Linked DNA regions of Homo sapiens: region 2 is linked to region 1. The links come from fine-mapping of genetic effects on gene expression. Tissue or cell type: skin. Region 1 holds a variant in brackets; the other region holds the start of a gene. All regions are shown on one strand. Distances are between the middles of the regions.

Region 1 (8,182 bases):
AGTTGGGACAAGAAAATGTTGGGAATTACTAGGGAGATACTTAGACAATGCATGGGAGGCCTACTTAAGATGGAAATGAGGTTTCAGGTGATAAAGTGGAAAAAAATTCAAAAAATGGCAGCACTCTAAGCAAGTTAAGGAGAACATCTGATGCAAGAGGTTGGTTTGTGGAAGGAGACAGAAAGACAGTGAATCAACTGAACTTAAACTAATGGTACTGCATGTAAAACTTGAAGACTGAGTTCAAGGTCCCAATGAATATACATTTTTTTTTTTTTGAGATGGAGTCTCGCTCTGTCACCCAGGCTGGAGAGCAGTGGCTCGATCTCGGCTCACTGCAACCTCCGCCTCCCAGGTTCAAGCGATTCTCCTGCCTCAGCCTCCCGAATAGCTGGGACTACAGGCACGTGCCACCATGCCCAGCTAATTTTTGTATTTTTAGTAGAGATGGGGTTTCACCATGTTGGCCAAGATGGTCTCGATCTCATGACCTCGTGATCCGCCCACCTCGGCCTCCCAAAGTGCAAATATAAATTTTAATTATGTACTGAGTTTGGAGTTTATAGACCCTAAACTGCATTCTAACAATGGAATGATTGATTTTTTCGGGGAGAGAGGGAGAGGGTGATTCATGTAAGGATGAAGAGAAGACAATATAGTCATTAAAAAACAAAAAAAAAAAATCACAATCAGATGAGGTGGTTGCTGAGAGCAAAGAGATTATAGAATGGAGTGAAAAACATTTTTTTTTCGGGTGGAGTTTTGCTATGTTGCCCAGGCTGGTCTTGAAATCCTGAACTCAAGTGAGCCTCCTACCTCAGCCACCTGAGTCGTGGGAATTACAAGCATGTGCCACTGTGTCTGGCTTGAAAGAGGAAATTTTTAAATGCCAGCTTTAGCCTCTAGGCCAGCTGCTGAAACAAGGACTAAGTTGGACTTTTATATAATCTTCCTCACTTTGAGGTGAACATATTTTATTTATTTTTTTCTTTTTTTCAGACAGGGTCTCACTCTGTCATGCAGACAGGAGTGCAGAGGCGTGATCTCGGCTCACTGCAACCTTTACCTTCGAGGCTCAAGTGATCCACCCGCCTCAGCCCCCTGAGTAGCTGGGACTACAGGCGTGTACCACCATGCCTGGCTAATTTCTTTTTTTATTTTTTGGAGAGATGGGGTTTCACCGTGTTGCCCAGGTTGGTCTCGAACTCCTGGACTCAAGCGATCCTTCTGCCTTGGCCTCCCAAAGTGCTGGGATTACAGACATGAGCCAACATGCCTGGCCTATGTGAATATTTTCTATGTTAACTGATTCCGTTGCTGTTTGTCTCAATGCCTTCATACTCCTCTATCAAGTATTGGTTTATATTGTTTGATTCTTGGTATTTACAGTATGAAATAGTAAGAGAGGTTGTTAATCATCTGGGAGATGGACAATGCATTTTCAAACCCCTCTTCTCTAGAGAAGATTAAAAGTCTTTGGGTGGTAAAACTGATAGTTGCATCACATTACTTGGAAAATGGTATTGTTGCTGCCTTTATTTTGAAGTTGAAAATGGCTATAATGGGTGTCAATACATGCTTATCTTTGAATGGGGTGGACTGTGCTAGACTTTCTATTATCACCTTGTCCCCAACACCCACTCCCTTCTGAGATGGGAACCACATTTTCCAGAATCACTTCCCCTATATGGGGCCCAGAAGGTGAATTGCATGATGTGAAAAATTCAGGGATAATGGGCACTATCATCATGTCCTCATGCAATTCACGTTCTGACCCCTCATAAAGCGACTACATTAGTCCATTTGCATTGCTAGAAAGAAATACCAAGGCTGGGTAATTTATAAAGAAAAGAGATTTAATTGGCTCGTGGTTCTATAAGCTGTATACAGGAAGCATGGTGCCTGCATCTGCTTCTAGTGAGGGCCTCAGGAAGCTTACAATTATGGCAGAAGGCAAAGGAAGAGCAGGCATGTCACATGGCAAGACAGGGAGCAAGAGAAATGTCAGACTCTTGTTACCAGCTCTTGCACAAACCAACAGGGTGAGAACTCACTTATTACTATGGGGAGGGCACCAAGCCATTTGTGAGGAATCTCCTCCCATGACCAAAACACCTCCCCAGGCCTCACCTCCAACATTGGAGATCACATTTTAACATGAGAGTTGGAGGGGACAAACATCCAAACTGTATCACAGACAAGGGCAGGTATTTGTAAGTTTTCAAAACCAGAGCTAGACTGTGCCCCAACCACAGATGCTGTGCCAGATGTTGTATCTTTATTGGGGCAAATCAAAACAGTGTTTGATCCTTGGTAGGCAATTATTGATCTGGCAAATGTGTTCTTACCAAAACCCTTCAGTAGGAGTGGAATTCTGCTTCCAGAAAGACGAGGTAGGCATATGTTTCCATATCTCTCCTGCTCAGTACAGCTATAAAACAAGCATAAGAAGACTCAGAAAGGTAGGGTAAGAAGGCAGACGAAGGGAGGACCTTGGGACCACAGAAATGGCAGAGCAGGGAGTTTCCCTGAGTTTTCTTTTTTGCCTCATATATCCTAGATGCAACTCATGAGAAGCTGGAGGACCTGGAGAAGCTGGCAACTCAAAAAGGCCAAAGGGTGCAGACAATAAAAGCCCCAGACAAGCGTATAGAACCACACGCCGTCTTTTTACTTGCCGTAAGTGTCATATTTTTCTTCTTTAATGTCACATAAGAGCAATATTTCCTTCAGGTATCTAATCACAAGAACCACTGCAAATTCTAGATCCATGAGATCAGTCTTTCTGTGGAGAATTCATGTAGAGATCCCTGATCACACACTTGTCAAATAGAAAGTTTCCCAGAAAATCAGATACCATGTGTTATGAAAGAAAAGAAAGTATCTAGTCACTAAACACCTAGTTTAGAATAAAACGCCAAACACCCAGTTTAGAATAATTTCCCAAAAAGTGTTTTCCTAAAGTAACTGAAATTTTGAAAATTGTATGAGGAGAAAGTACATTTGATTTCTTCCTTTCTCTGACTCTTGCATCCTTCATTTTCCTTCTGCCTGTGTTAATCCCCCAGGACTGCCATAATCAAGGGCACCAGAGGGGTGGCTTGAACAGGAGAAATTCAGTTCCTCACAGTTCTGGAAGCCAGAAGTATGAGATCAAGGTGTTGGCAGGATGGTTTCTTCTGAGGGTCTATCTCTTGGCTTATCCATGGCCAACTCCTCCCTGTGTCTTCACATGGCCTCTGTGTGTGTGTCTGTGCCCTAATATCCTCTTCTTATAGGGACACCAGTCAGCTTGGATTAGGTCCTGCTCATATGACCTCATTTTACCGTAATCGCCTTTTCAAAGACCTTATCTCCAAATACAGTTATATTCAGAGATACTGGGGTTAGGACTTCAACACATGAATTTTGCGGGAGACATAGGTCATCCCATATTAATGCCCAAACAAAATTTATTACTTCACATAGTCATGCCCCAAATGAAAATTAAACAACCCAAAATTAAATAGAATTTTTAAATTTCATCATTTCTTTATTATTATTATTATTATTTTTTGAGATGGAGTCTCACTCTGTTGCCCAGGCTGGAGGACAGTGGCATGATCTCAGCTCACTACCAGCGCCACCTCCTGGGTTCATGCCATTCTCCTGCCTCAGCTCCTGAGTAGCTGGGACTACAGGCGCCCGCCACCACACCCGGCTCCTTTTTTGTATTTTTAGTAGAGACGGGGTTTCACCATGTTAGCCAGAATGGTCTTGATCTCCTGACCTCGTGATCTGCCTGCCTCAGCCTCCCAAAGTACTGGGATTACAGGCATGAGCCACCATGCCCAGCCGATTTCTTTGTTTCTTTTTTTTTTTTTTACTATTAATGTTATTTTTTATGAGAGAGAGCACGCCAAGTATTGCTATAAATATTAGGATTAATTCTATTGATGTGCTTCATGATCATGTATATTTTATGAAGATTTATTAGATCAAAAATTACAAGATTTATCTTAAAGTAATCACTCTTATATTAACTGTATATTTTAGCACTGTTTTTATCTATTGGAATATTTTCATAGCTATAGTTATTAAAATTCACCATAATCATTAATTAGAGCCATAATTACACTTTTATAATAAATATACATTTATACTTTAACCGATGGATAAAACATCAACCTAAATATCCAAAAGGAAATTTTTAATCAAGTGACTTCTAGGAGGGTGTCTGTTCTGACGGTGGCTATTCAGGAACAAAGAGCAAATCTGAAGAAAAGGCCTGGTTCCCACTCTGGCCACACCTGTTGCCACACTGATGGGATGTGCTGATCACAGCAAGATCACAGTCAGGATAAGTGTGGGGCCAGCAATGGCCTTGCTCAAGGCACTTTGTGCT[T/G]AGGACACGTGACAGCCTGTGTGGTGTGTGTGTGTGTGTGTGTGCGTGTGTGTGTGTGTGTGTTTGCTTCTGTTTTTCTGTGGGTAAATACATGACCCAGAAATTTCTCAAAATAAGTTTATTCTTACTACATAAGATCCACTCCATCACAGCTCTTTGTGTTCTGCTTTCTTGTTTATTGGATACCTCTTCAGGCCCAGGGCGGCTCATGGAGGAGACAGGGACTCTCCCCAGGTCGAAGGCCCAAGGCCTGGATGATGGGGTGGGGCCCAGGATGGGTGCCAGGGGTCTGGAGGACATGAGTGGATGAAGGCCCCGGGCTTCAGCTTCCTCTTGGTGGAATGTGGGTGATGAGGTCCGACCATGCAGCGCTGCTGTGAGGACCGGATGAGAGGATCCCTGGGAGGTGGCCGGTGACTTGGTACCGTCACCTCAGTGACTGTTCTTCGTCCTCATGGATGTTCAGAGAAGACTTGCCCACTCTCTCCACCAGATACAACCAATAAAACCTCTGAAAATTTCAGCCGAACTTTATAGCACTTTCATTCTTTTCCAATTTATTTGACGCTATTTAAATCAGACCTAGTGATTCTGGGATGCCTGAGATTCCTGTCCCTTAGAAGGGACGTCAGGTGCCTTCTGTGCGCACACGTGGCATTTGGGCGGGAACCCAGAGCCCCGACTCTGGGCTTGTTGGACTGAGATCCAAGGAGGGATTCACTACATTGGTGTAAGGTGCGGTCTGTGTTTCAGATTCTTGTGCCAGATGAGGTGATGCTTTGATGTCAATACCTCGTGTTGGGGGAAGGTTGGGGATCTGGACCAGTGGTCTAGGGGGCCTGTATGGGGCAGGACCCAGACACCTGAGGATTCCAGGTTTAAGAAGGGCGGGGCTGAGCGAGGCCTCTCGGCGCGTGTAGGTGCCTTGGGCACCTACATCCTGCTGTGCGGCTTCAGTGGGGGCGTCCAGGGCGGGGTCTGAGCTGGGAGACCCGCCTCTCTCCTGCTCTCACGGAGTCACTTAAAACTTTTTAGTTTTCCACTTAAATGACCAAATGAGATCATTTCATGGGGTGGTGGGGGGAGTGCAGGCAAGGAGAGTCACATGTGGACAGGGTGAAGGTTTAGGACGCTCACTGTGGAGGATGAGGAAGCAGCCACCCCGTGGGTGGGGTGGGTCTGTCGCTTTCTAGGCGCCAGCACAGCTCTCACGCCCTGCAGAATCCTAGCATGGGGAGGCAGAGCTCACCCAGCATTGGGTGTGCTCCCACTGATAGGCCCTGAGCTAGGGTTAGGCCTGTGAGACAGGGCATTTGCCCTGTGATGCCAGATTGCTGCCATGGTGATGTGCCGGGTCCAGAGTTCCCGCACGTGCAGACACCTGGCCACCGGGCCCGTCTGGGGCCACTGAGGCGAGGCTGCCAACTGTGGGGCGATGATGGAACCCTTTGAGTCAGAATCTGCCCAGGGAAGCCATCGGGCAGTCCGGGAGCCTGGGTTGGCCTCGGATGACTGAGGCCCAGGGACGCAGGCCCTGTGCAGACCCCCTGGCCCTGAGAAACAGGACCCAGAAAGGTGGTGGCTTCTTTGACTTTGGGGAATCCAGGTTGGTGGAGACCCTAGGGCTGAACGCTCCCTAAGGAACCTGCTTCTGGGTTGGGTAAGCAGCAGCGTGGCCCCCTCCCTGCGATCTATTCCACATCAGCACTGGCCACGAGGGTTTGTCCCTGGCACAGGGCCTGAAGAATGTGCTTCAGGTGCCTTGGCCAGCCTTTGCTTCCTCCTTCCAAACCCGAGGGCTCCTCCATAGCCCACATCCTCCACACCCCGCCCCACCCACTCCCTCTCAGGCTCCAGCTTTGGCCCAAAGTCAGACTAAGTGTGGCATCTCTGGGCGTTGGACCTGCCCAGTGGGTTTTCCACGATCCCAGGGGACGCGTGCCTGGGATGGGTGTGTGGCAGATCAGGTTTCTGTTAGCGACCAGAAGAGTCAGTTTCCACTAAACTTTATTTTTGATGAATGCATACCTTAAACATTATAGAACTGGATAAACTAGTGCCTGGGGATGAGGGCGGGAATGAGAAAACAAGCCCATTAAAACCCCAGCTGGGTTTTCTCAGACCCTAAAATCTGATCAAATAATAATAGCATTCTTCCACATATTCCTCATACTGGGGTCCATTTAAGATTAAGAAACTTTCCAAGACTCTGGAGAAAGCTTTCCAGACCCTGGACACTAGTTAAAGATTAGATATTGATAAGAATGAAACACGCTGTCTTGCAGGTGCACTCCGCACATAGGCGTGGAGCTTAGAATGCATATAAGCACTAGAAAAAGAAGTTTGTAGCTTTGAGTTGGTCTGGTAAGCTACTCTGACCTTCTCCCCATAGCCAGTTGGAGAAAGAACCTCCGTTCTTTCCCAGTCTGTCTGCATCTCCTTAACGTACATCAAGAACAAACAGCCGGGTCCTGTTCTGTCCCAGAACTGGTGGGAGAGGGAGTGCCTCTCCGAAGCCCTCTCGCGATCCCCACCTCCTCCCCACCCCACCTGGGCTGCTCCCGATGTTGTGACTGGGTTCAGGGAGCCATGGGGTGGTGGAGGCTGGTGTAGGAGGGTGGCCCCTGTCCCAGGTGCGGCCAGGGTCCTAGTCACCGAGCACAAATAACAAAATAATAAATTTAAAAATAAATGGAAAAAGAGAAAATAAGTGTGTGCACGAACAGAACAAATGGAAAGGCCCAGATGCCTCAGGGTGACAGAGAGAAGGGGCCCCACGTCACCCTCTGTGACCCCTTTCAACAGTCCAAGCTCTCTAATTCATGAATTCTACAGCATTCATTTATAAAGTACATAAATTTATTATGATCCTGTGCTTTGCTCCTGGATAGAAGAGAACTTGAGATGATGGAAAATCTCACAGAAGGGTGAAGGGTTCCCCAGCCAGCCTTGGGGTGGTGCCGGGTTGATGTTGGCCATAGGGGTCATCAGGAGGGTTCAGAGTCCCTGGGCCCCCATCAGCACACGCATCTCATGCTGTCCAGAATTCTAGAAGGGGACCTGTGGGCCTCCTCAGGGCAGCTGCAGGGTGGGCCTCAGACAGGTCACAGAATGAAGTGGGCAGTTGAGTGTGTGTTTCTCTGGCCCCCAAACAGCCACTCAGCATCCCAGATCTCAGGTAACACCAGCCTCTTTCTCCAGGCCCACCCAGGAAGGAGAATCCAGGAGTCATCGTTCCCCTGATGTTCCATTAGCTGACACTGGAGATAGTGACAGAGAGAGACACTGAGCGGGACAGAGATGGCCAGAGATGGGGGCGAGACTGAACATGGGCAGAAATGAGGACAGGAGAGCCAGGAGGAGAGGACAGCGGGGTAGAGAGAGTGAGATTCTGAGAGGGAAATAAAAATGGATGGAGACACAGGTGTAGGGAAAGGGAGAGGTGGATTGAATAGAAGCAGGGGGCAGAGACAGGGAGACAAGGAGAATGGGGGCTCCACCCAGGGCAGAACAGGCATGCAGCTACCCTGCACCCACAATCCCACGGAGGGGACAGGACTCACCTGCGACAAAGCCTGTCATCCGAGGTCCGGGCTGAGTCGCAGTTCTGGTTTATCAGCTTCACCATGAAGGTCCAGGGGCAGCACTGCTCAAAGCAGACTCTGAAGGTGCAGTTTCCACACGTCTGGGTCCTGGCCAAGGGCACGACGGCATCATCATAGCAACAGTGCTGCAGGGGGTCGTAGAACTTGTCCCCACATCTCTTGTGTGGCTGGCACAGCATCAGGTAAGGAGTCA
Region 2 (8,182 bases), 31 kb after region 1:
CTTAAGCAGGGGATAGAAGTGATCAGATTGTGATTCAGGAAAATCCGTGTGTCCTTCTGCTGGGAGGAGGGTGGGTGAGAGGATTGAGATGGGAGCATGAGACCAGGCAGGAAGCTGATGGAGCAGAAATTCTCATGCAATTTCCAGAGTCCTGCAGGCCCACTCGCTGTCATGGGTGGATGAGATAAGCACTCACACCCCCGACCCCATTTCTCATTCTGCCTTCTGGCCTCCCCTCTCCTGAAGCTGCAGGGTAGAGCAGTGATCTCCAACATGGGGATTGTGACACTCTCAGGTTGTGAATCAATTTATTCATCAACATGGGTATCTTATACATTCAACTAGAATCAAAAGAAATAGAAGAGTGTGCATGGCACAGTGTCTTATTCATCAGTGTTCAATTAAACTTTCTTTTGGACTGATGTAATATGAGTGCTTCCTAGCAAGTCACAGCCAAACAGTTACTAAACACTGGAAGGAAAAATCCTCTGGGTATAAGCTCGCCTCCATCTTTCTTAAAAATCACTGACTACCTGTCCGGGCATGTTGCTCCCCCTCACCCCGCCCCACACACACAAAGAGTTCAGAGCTCACAGTGTCAGTTCTAGGTGCTTCGTATGCTGAGACTGGGTGTGGCATTTGGCCTGGTTTTCTGTGCTAAAAACAGGGTTGAATTTAGGCCTGGAGAGCAGCCAGTGCCAGGGAGAAAAGCACATTCCTGAGGGCAGGGCTGGAGTTGCCATCTCTTGGAAGAGAGGAGCCCAGCTGGCCCTCCTTGGCCTTGGTCCCCATCTGTCAGGGCAGCTGAGTCAGGCTGGGTAGAGAAAACAGCAGTGGGTGATGATGACGGGGCAGGGGGTGTCAGAAGCTGGGTTCGAGGGAGGGCAGTGGGGCAGGGCCAGGGCTCTGTGGATGCAAGAGTCCCTCTCTCAGCAATCCTGAGACTTTGTGGTCAAACAGCCCTGGGTTGGACTCTTCTCTCTACATTTTCTCAAAGGGTCAGATAAGCTATTTTCTAGTAGCCCTGTTTATCTCCCTGTATGACAACAACATTAGATTTTTGGATATTGTCAGCTTCCCAGCCCTTCCTCAGTCACCTCCAATGCACATCTGGGCACACCATGTGCTTTCTGTCTTGGCAGCAGAAGGACGTTCAAACCACTCAAGCCCCAGCCCACAGGCAGCAACCCTCACCATAGCCCCATGCTCAAAAACTAGCCAAAGCCACGTGTTTAACGGCCCACTTGCTTCACACTGGACCAAGCCTCAATCCTTCTTCTTGGGGAGTGCTGACACTGGTAATGTGGCGTCATCATCTGGGGTAAATACACAAGGTTCATTGTCTCAAACCAAGAAAATCGAGTACATGGACACAAGAAGTGGGTTTAGGAGCAGGGGTTTAATAGGCAAAAGAGAGAGAAAGAAGAACAGCTCTCTCTCTCTCTCTCAGCACCTGAATGGGACTTCCAGCCTACAGCAGAGTGCACTGGATTTTATAGACGGGTTTGAAGAGGTGGTATCTGATTTCCATAGGGCCCACAGATTGGTTGGATCAGCTGTGACATTTACATAGTGCTGGAAGAAGCTGACCACCCCACCCTAATCTTATTATGCAAATGGACTTTCCACTTGGTGGATGCCATGTTATCTGCTTTCTACTGTGCATGTGGTTGGAAAGGAAAAGGGAAGATGGAGCTGCCATTTTGAAAATGCCTAGTCCCAGGTAGCCTTTTCCTATTGGCACAAATGCTGGCATTCACCTGTGGAAGCTTCTAGCCTGCCTTTCTATGTCTGTGGCTTGATTTTAATGGCTGCTGTTTGTTGGAAAAGTATATGATTTGGAGGGTGCTTTTCATTAAAAGAAAAACCTTACCAAGGACTTTCTTACCTTCACTATCTGCCTAAAATAATTTCTTCTTAACTCCTATATTACCGGGTCCTATTCAGGTTATAAAATTTATTTCATGCTGGGCACGGTGGCTCACGCCTGTAATCCCAGCACTTTGGGAGGCCAAGGCAGGTGGATCACCTGAGGTCAGGAGTTTGAGAACAGCATGGCCAACATGGCAAAATCCCGTCTATACTAAAACTACAAAAAAAAAAAAAAATACCTGAGTGTGGTGGCAGGTACCTGTAATCCCAGCTACTTGGGAGGCTGAGGCAGGAGAAGCGCTTGAATCCGGGAGGCAGAGGTTGCAGTGAGCCGAGATCGTGCCACTGCACTCCAGCCTGCGCGACAGAGTGAGACTGTCTCAAAAACAAACAAAAAACAAAACAACAACTTATTTCATATACACGAGCACCTGTGTGTCATTTCTCCTGAAGTCCATTACAATTCCCTGAGGGATTTTTCCCAGCAAGCAGCAGGAGCTGCTAAAACCCCATATCAAAATTCCCGAAGCAGCCGCCTGTGCATTCCACATCCCAAAGCTGCCCACTCTGTGTTGTCACTGTTTAGGGACAGTGGACCTAGAGCTGTTTGAGGACAGGGAGCAGGGCTGCATCACTCACTGCCATGTCCCTAGTTATTGGGAACCCTGTCTCTTTCCAGGGTCACAGGATTCTCATGGCTTCCTGGGAAATAACAGTAAACTCCAACATCTGTTGGTCATATTTTCTCACCCTATTCCCTCTATGTAAAGAGCACCCTGGCATGAGGGGCCCCTGCAGGTCACAGACACCATCTAGACTGGACCCAGGTACCCCTGTCTCAGCCCAGCAACCCCCCCCAGTCCCAGGCCCAGCTCGTCCAGAAAGGCAAGCAGGCCCTGATCCCAGGCACCCGGGGGCTGGCCTCAGGGAAGACTTTCCCACAACCCCAGCTGCTGGTGGGAGACCTGAGCTTCTGGAACGTGGCACACAGGAGAGCACTGGCTGTCCTCCTTTCATGGGCTTCCCCTCTGGAACAAGCACGGAAAGGGCTGAATCATCATTCTGGTGGCATCCGGGTATGATTTCCACCTGGCCTCAGGGAGCCTCTCCCAGGTGACAGACAGGAATCTGGTGAAATTTCAGATGTTCAAAAATAATGTTAGGGCTGGGATCGGAGACTCATGCCTGTAATCCTAGCACTTTGGGAGGCCGAGACGGGTGGATCACCTGAGGTCAGGAGTTTGAGACCAGCCTGACCAACAAAGTGAAACCCTGTCTCTACTAAAAATACAAAAATTAGCTGGGTGTGGTGGCATGCACCTGTAATCCCAGCTACTCGGGAGGCTGAGATAGCAGAATTGCTTGAACCTGGAAGGCAGAGGTTACAGTGAGTCGAGATTGCACCACTGCACTCCAGCCTGGGCAACAGAGTGAGACTCTCTCAAACAAAAACAAAAACAAAAACAAAAAAACCCAGAATGCTAGGAATGCAGATGTCACTGAGGGAGAGGACTGGGCCTCACCAGTGCCTGAGGGCCCATCCTCTGATATCTGCCTGGGTGGCTGGAGTGCTCTGTGTTCCATCTGCACACTTCAAGCTTGCAAGCTGGTCCCTGCTACCTGCAACAAGAACTTGGGTGCCAGTCCCTGGATGGCTGAACTGGATCCCTTCCTGCTTAAATGCTCTACAGCAGCAGCAAAAACTGTAAGAAACCACTGAAATTCAAATCAGGAGAACAAAGCAGCTCTAGTGCAGCTGGCCAACTGTACCGGGGTGTTGGCCAACTCTCTGGTGTCAGGCCTCTGAGCCCAAGCTAAGCCATCATAACCCCTGTGACCTGCACGTATACATCTAGAGGGCCTGGAGCAACTGAAGAACCACAAAAGATGACATTCCATCATTGTGATTTGCTCCTGCCCCACCCCAACTAATCCATCAACCTTGTGACATTCCTCCCCTAGACAATGAGTCTCATGATCTCCCCACCCTGCACCTTGTGATCCCCATCCCTGCCCACAAGAGATAACCACCTTTAACTGTAATTTTCCACTACCTACCCAAATCCTATAAAACTGCTGTACCCCTATCTCCCTTTGCTGACTCTCTTTTCAGATTCAGCCCAGTTGCACCCAAGTAAAATAAACAGTCTTGTTGCTCACACAAAGCCTGTTGGTGGACTCTCTTCATATGGACTCATGTGACATTTGGTGCCGAAGACCTGAGACAGGAGGACTCCTTTGGGAGACCGGTCCCCTGTCCTCGCCCTCTCTCCATGAGATCCACCCATGACCTCGGGTCCTCAGCCCAGCCGAAGGAACTTCTCACCAATTTTAAATCGGGTAAGTAGCCTCTTTTCATTCTCTTCTCCAACCTCTCTTGCTAGATATCCCTCCACTCTTTAATCTCTCCCTCCCTTAATTTTGGTTCCTTTCCGTTTCTGGTAGAGACAGAGGAGACACGTTTTGTCCATGAACTCAAAATTCTGCTGCTGGTCACAGACTCGGGAAGACAGTCTTCCCTTGGTGTCTAATCACTGTGGGGATGCATGTCTGATTATTCACCCACATTCCAGAGGTGTCTGACCACTGCAGGGACGCCTGCCTTGATCCTTCACCTTGGTGGCAAGTACCACCTCCCCTGGATGGCAAGTACCAACCCCCCTCTCCATGTCTCTACCCTCTCTTTTCTCTAAACTTACCTTTTTACTATGGGCAACCTTCCACCCTCCATTCCTCCTTCTTCTCCCTTAGCCTGTGTTCTAAAAAACTTAAAACCTCTTCAACTCTCACCTGACCCAAAACCTAAGCATCTTATTTTCTTCTGCAACAGCATTTGACCCCAATACAAACTTAACAATTGTTCTAAATGGCCAGAAAATGGCACTTTCGATTTCCCCATCCTACAAGATCTAGATAATTTTGTCAAAAAATGGGCAAATGGTCTGAGGTGCCTGATGTCCAGGCATCCTTTTACACATCAGTTCCTCCCTAGTCTCTGCTCCCAATGTGACTCATTCCAGATCTTTCTTCTTTCTCTCCTGTCTGTTCCTTCAGTCTCCACCCCAAGCTCTGAGTCCTTTAAATCTTCTTTTTCTGTGAACTCATCCGACCTCTCCCCTCCTCCCCACACTGCTCCTCACCAGGCCAAGCGAGGTCCCAGTTCTTCCTCAGCTTCCACTCTCCCACCCTATAATCCTTCTATCGCCTCCCCCACTCACAACCGGTCCAGCTTACAGTTTTGTTCCGTGACTAGCCCTCCCCAACCTGCCCAACAATTTCCTCTTAGAGAGGTGGCTGGAGCTGAAGGCAGAGTCAAGGTTAATGATCCTTTACATCTTAACAAAATTATCCACTACCCTGACTATTCCTGGACTACAGCCACATCTCAGTGCCGCCCTTCTCCCCAACCTAAAGCCTCCTTCACGTCTTCCTCTTGTATCCCCCAACCTTAACCCACAAGTATGGGACACTTTTACTCCCTCCCTGGCAACCAATCACACGCCCGTTACTATCCCATTAAAACCTAATCATCCTTACCCCGACGTGCTGCAGAGGACACAGCAGAGACATAATAGCGGGCCATGTGCCATCACTGGGAACACAGATTGTCCTCAGGCCTTGATGACTCAGAGAGTCAGGGCTGGGTTGGGGACGCGTAAAGGCTTGGGAGCCCACAGTGGTTGCCTCACCCAGCCTGGAAGGCCAGCGATGTCTTCTAGGAGAAGAAGACATTTGAGCTACTATTTCAAGAATGAATGAGAACTGTGCCTGTTTCGACAAAGCTGAACCCAGAGGCCAGAATGCAAGGCAGGAAGAGGAGACTGGAGTGGGCAGCAAGGCTGGGGCATTTTTATGGGCCCTTGGAGAACTCCAGTCTATCCTGAGGGCACTGACCATGGCCCAGGCCTAAGCAGGGGATGGAAGTGACCAGATTTATGGTTGTAGAACATCCCTGTATCTCTCTTGTGAGGAGGGTGGAGAGGAGGGTTGAGTCTGGAGCTGGGTAATGGTGCAATCACGAGGGGCCTGCAGTCTTCCTCCTCCCTTGTGGAGAGGGGACAGCGTGTTCTCCTTCTCCATTGCTCTCTGCTCCCCTGGCTTCTCCATTTGCAGTTCAGGAAAGAGTAGTGTCCTCCATACTAAGGGTGGCAACATTTTATTGGGTGGTATAACTGCTTGAGTATGTCATAGATATTATTTTTTTAATTCAAGAAACAGACACAAAAATGGGTTAGTGTACACTGCACAGATTTTTATGAACTGCCTTATAGTGAAATCTTCCTTCATGACTGTGGTAAGTCACATATTGAGGGAGAATTTATATTTTTTCCAGCGAAGCAAAACCAACAAGAATGAAGTGGTCAGGTATGGTGGCTCCTGCCTGTAATCTCAGCACTTAGGGAGGCTGATGAGGAAGAATTGCTTGAGGCCAGGAGTTCAAGACCAACCTGGGCAACATGGCAAAATCCAGTCTTTACAAAAGTTTTTTTTTTTTTAAAAGCTGGGCATGGTGGCACACACCTGTGGTCTCAGCTATTTGGGAGGCTGTAGCAGGAGGAACGCTTGAGCTCAAGAGTTCCAGGTTGAAATTAGTCATGATAAGACCACTGCACTCCAGCCTGGGCAACAGAGTGAGACCCTGAACGAAAGAAAGAAAAGAAAAGAAAAGAGAAAAGAAAAGAAAAGAAAAGAAAAGAAAAGAAAAGGGCCAGGTGTGGTGGCTCACACCTGTAATCCCAGCACTTTGACAGGCCAACTCAGGTGGGTCACCTAAGCTCAGGAGTTCAAGACCAGCCTGGGTAACATGACAAAACCCCATATCTACAAAAAATACAGAAATTAGAATTAGCCGGGCATAATGTCATGGGCCTGTAGACCCAGCTACTCAGGGGCTGAGGCAGGAGAATTTCCTGAGCCTGAGAAGTGGAAGTTTCAGTGAGCTGAGATCACACCACTGCACTGCAGCCTGGGTGACAGAACGAGATCTTGTCTCAAAAAATAAAATAAAATAAAAATTAAAAAAAATTAGGGCAGGTGCGGTGGCTCACACCTGTAATCCCAGCACTTTGGGAGGCCGAGGTGGACAGATCACAAGGTCAGGATGGTGAAACCCCATCTCTACTAAAAATACAAAAATTAGCCAGGCGTGGTGGCGTGTGCTTGTAATCCCAGCTACTCGGGAGGCTGAGGCAGGAGAATCGCTTGAACCAGGGAGTCAGAGGTTGCAGTGAGCCGAGATCGTGCCACTGCACTCCAGCCTGGCTACAGAGCGAGACTCCGTCTCAATTAAAAAAAAAATTTAAAAAGGAATGAAGAAGGGTGCAGGCATGGCCTGGCTTCCTTCTTGCCTAAGTGCTGCTGACTTAGATGTCCCAACACATCTCCCAATAACGGGCTTCATCTCTCAAACCATGGTTCCAGGCATTTCCTGGGATGGCTCGAGGCAGGTAGAGGCCTAGACGCTGGTGGGAGAAAGCAGGTTTCTTGGGTCAGGATTAGGATTGTGTCCCGAGGAGAGAGGAGTCTAGCTGACCCTCCTTGGCCTGAGCCTGATCTCTCAGGGTGGCTGAGTCAGGCCTGGGGTGAGACAGTGGAGGGAGATCATGACAGCGCAGGGGGCTCTCAGAGGCTGGGAAGCGGGGAGGGTGGCCAGGGCTAGTCCAGTGCTCCTGTCTCTGCCCCTTCTCCAGGTGTCAAAAAAGCCTTTGCACACAGAGCTGTCCAATGCCTCCGCCAGCCCCGTGGAGTCCCCAACCCTATCCAATCCATTGTCTGGGGACAGGTCTGTCTTCGGCACTGGAGCCCAGCTCTGCCTTGGTGGAACTGATCCTCAGGGGTTGGAACTCTACCTCTACCCACGGTGAAAGGAGGTTGTTTTTCTGACAAGTAAGGGCAAGATCCTGACCTCAGACAGACATTTGTTTAATTCTCCCATCTCACTTTCTAATCCAAGCAAGACACGGTCCGAGGACCCACTGCTGGTCACAGACACAGGCTGGACCAGAGCCCAGGTCTCCTGAACTCCAGTCCACAGGCCTCCAACTGCTGCCCTACCCTGCCTCTGCTGGCCCAGCCCCTCTGGGAAGGGGAGGCAGGCCTTGGTCACAGATATCCCTGGATGAGACCCAAATCTGACATTCCCAGGGTTCCTCGGTGGGGCTGGCAGAGCTGGGCTCCTGGAATGTGAAACCGTGGGGGCCTTGACATTTCCCACTCTCAAAGGCTCTCTCTTCACTTGCTCTTTTGTCCAGGAATAAATAGAATGACTCTTCCACCTGGCATCTTTGTGGTGTTAGTTCCATCTGGCCTC

Alleles and levels. Positions count from the first base shown, and alleles are read on the strand shown. Sizes are in standard deviations (SD) of each study's normalised expression.
With allele T in place of G in region 1, the expression in skin of the gene that starts at base 3,990 in region 2 is higher (moderate effect, 0.50 SD a copy in TwinsUK).

Evidence for each region. PIP is the estimated chance that this variant, and not a neighbour inherited with it, causes the effect.
Region 2: it holds the start of IGFL2-AS1, and the variant in region 1 is the best candidate, but not a certain one, in a credible set for the expression of IGFL2-AS1 in skin (TwinsUK, PIP 0.57).

The regions. Positions count from the first base shown.
Region 1 is chr19:46,230,283-46,238,464 of GRCh38, reverse strand. IGFL1 (IGF like family member 1) reads right to left here. Exons shown (of 4, transcript NM_198541.2): 3 at 7,948-8,182; 4 at 7,222-7,644. The coding sequence ends at 7,635. LOC124904728 (a long non-coding RNA gene) reads left to right here. Exons shown (of 2, transcript XR_007067273.1): 2 at 2,561-2,658. Among named protein-coding and RNA genes, the nearest start is that of IGFL1, 4.6 kb to the right of the region's middle. RefSeq lists an enhancer at 8,176-8,182. The variant T/G (reference allele first, on the strand shown) is at 4,385.
Region 2 is chr19:46,198,870-46,207,051 of GRCh38, reverse strand. It overlaps IGFL2-AS1 (IGFL2 antisense RNA 1), which reads left to right and starts at 3,990. Exons shown (of 3, transcript NR_135234.1): 1 at 3,990-4,212. It also overlaps a transcript of IGFL2 not described here.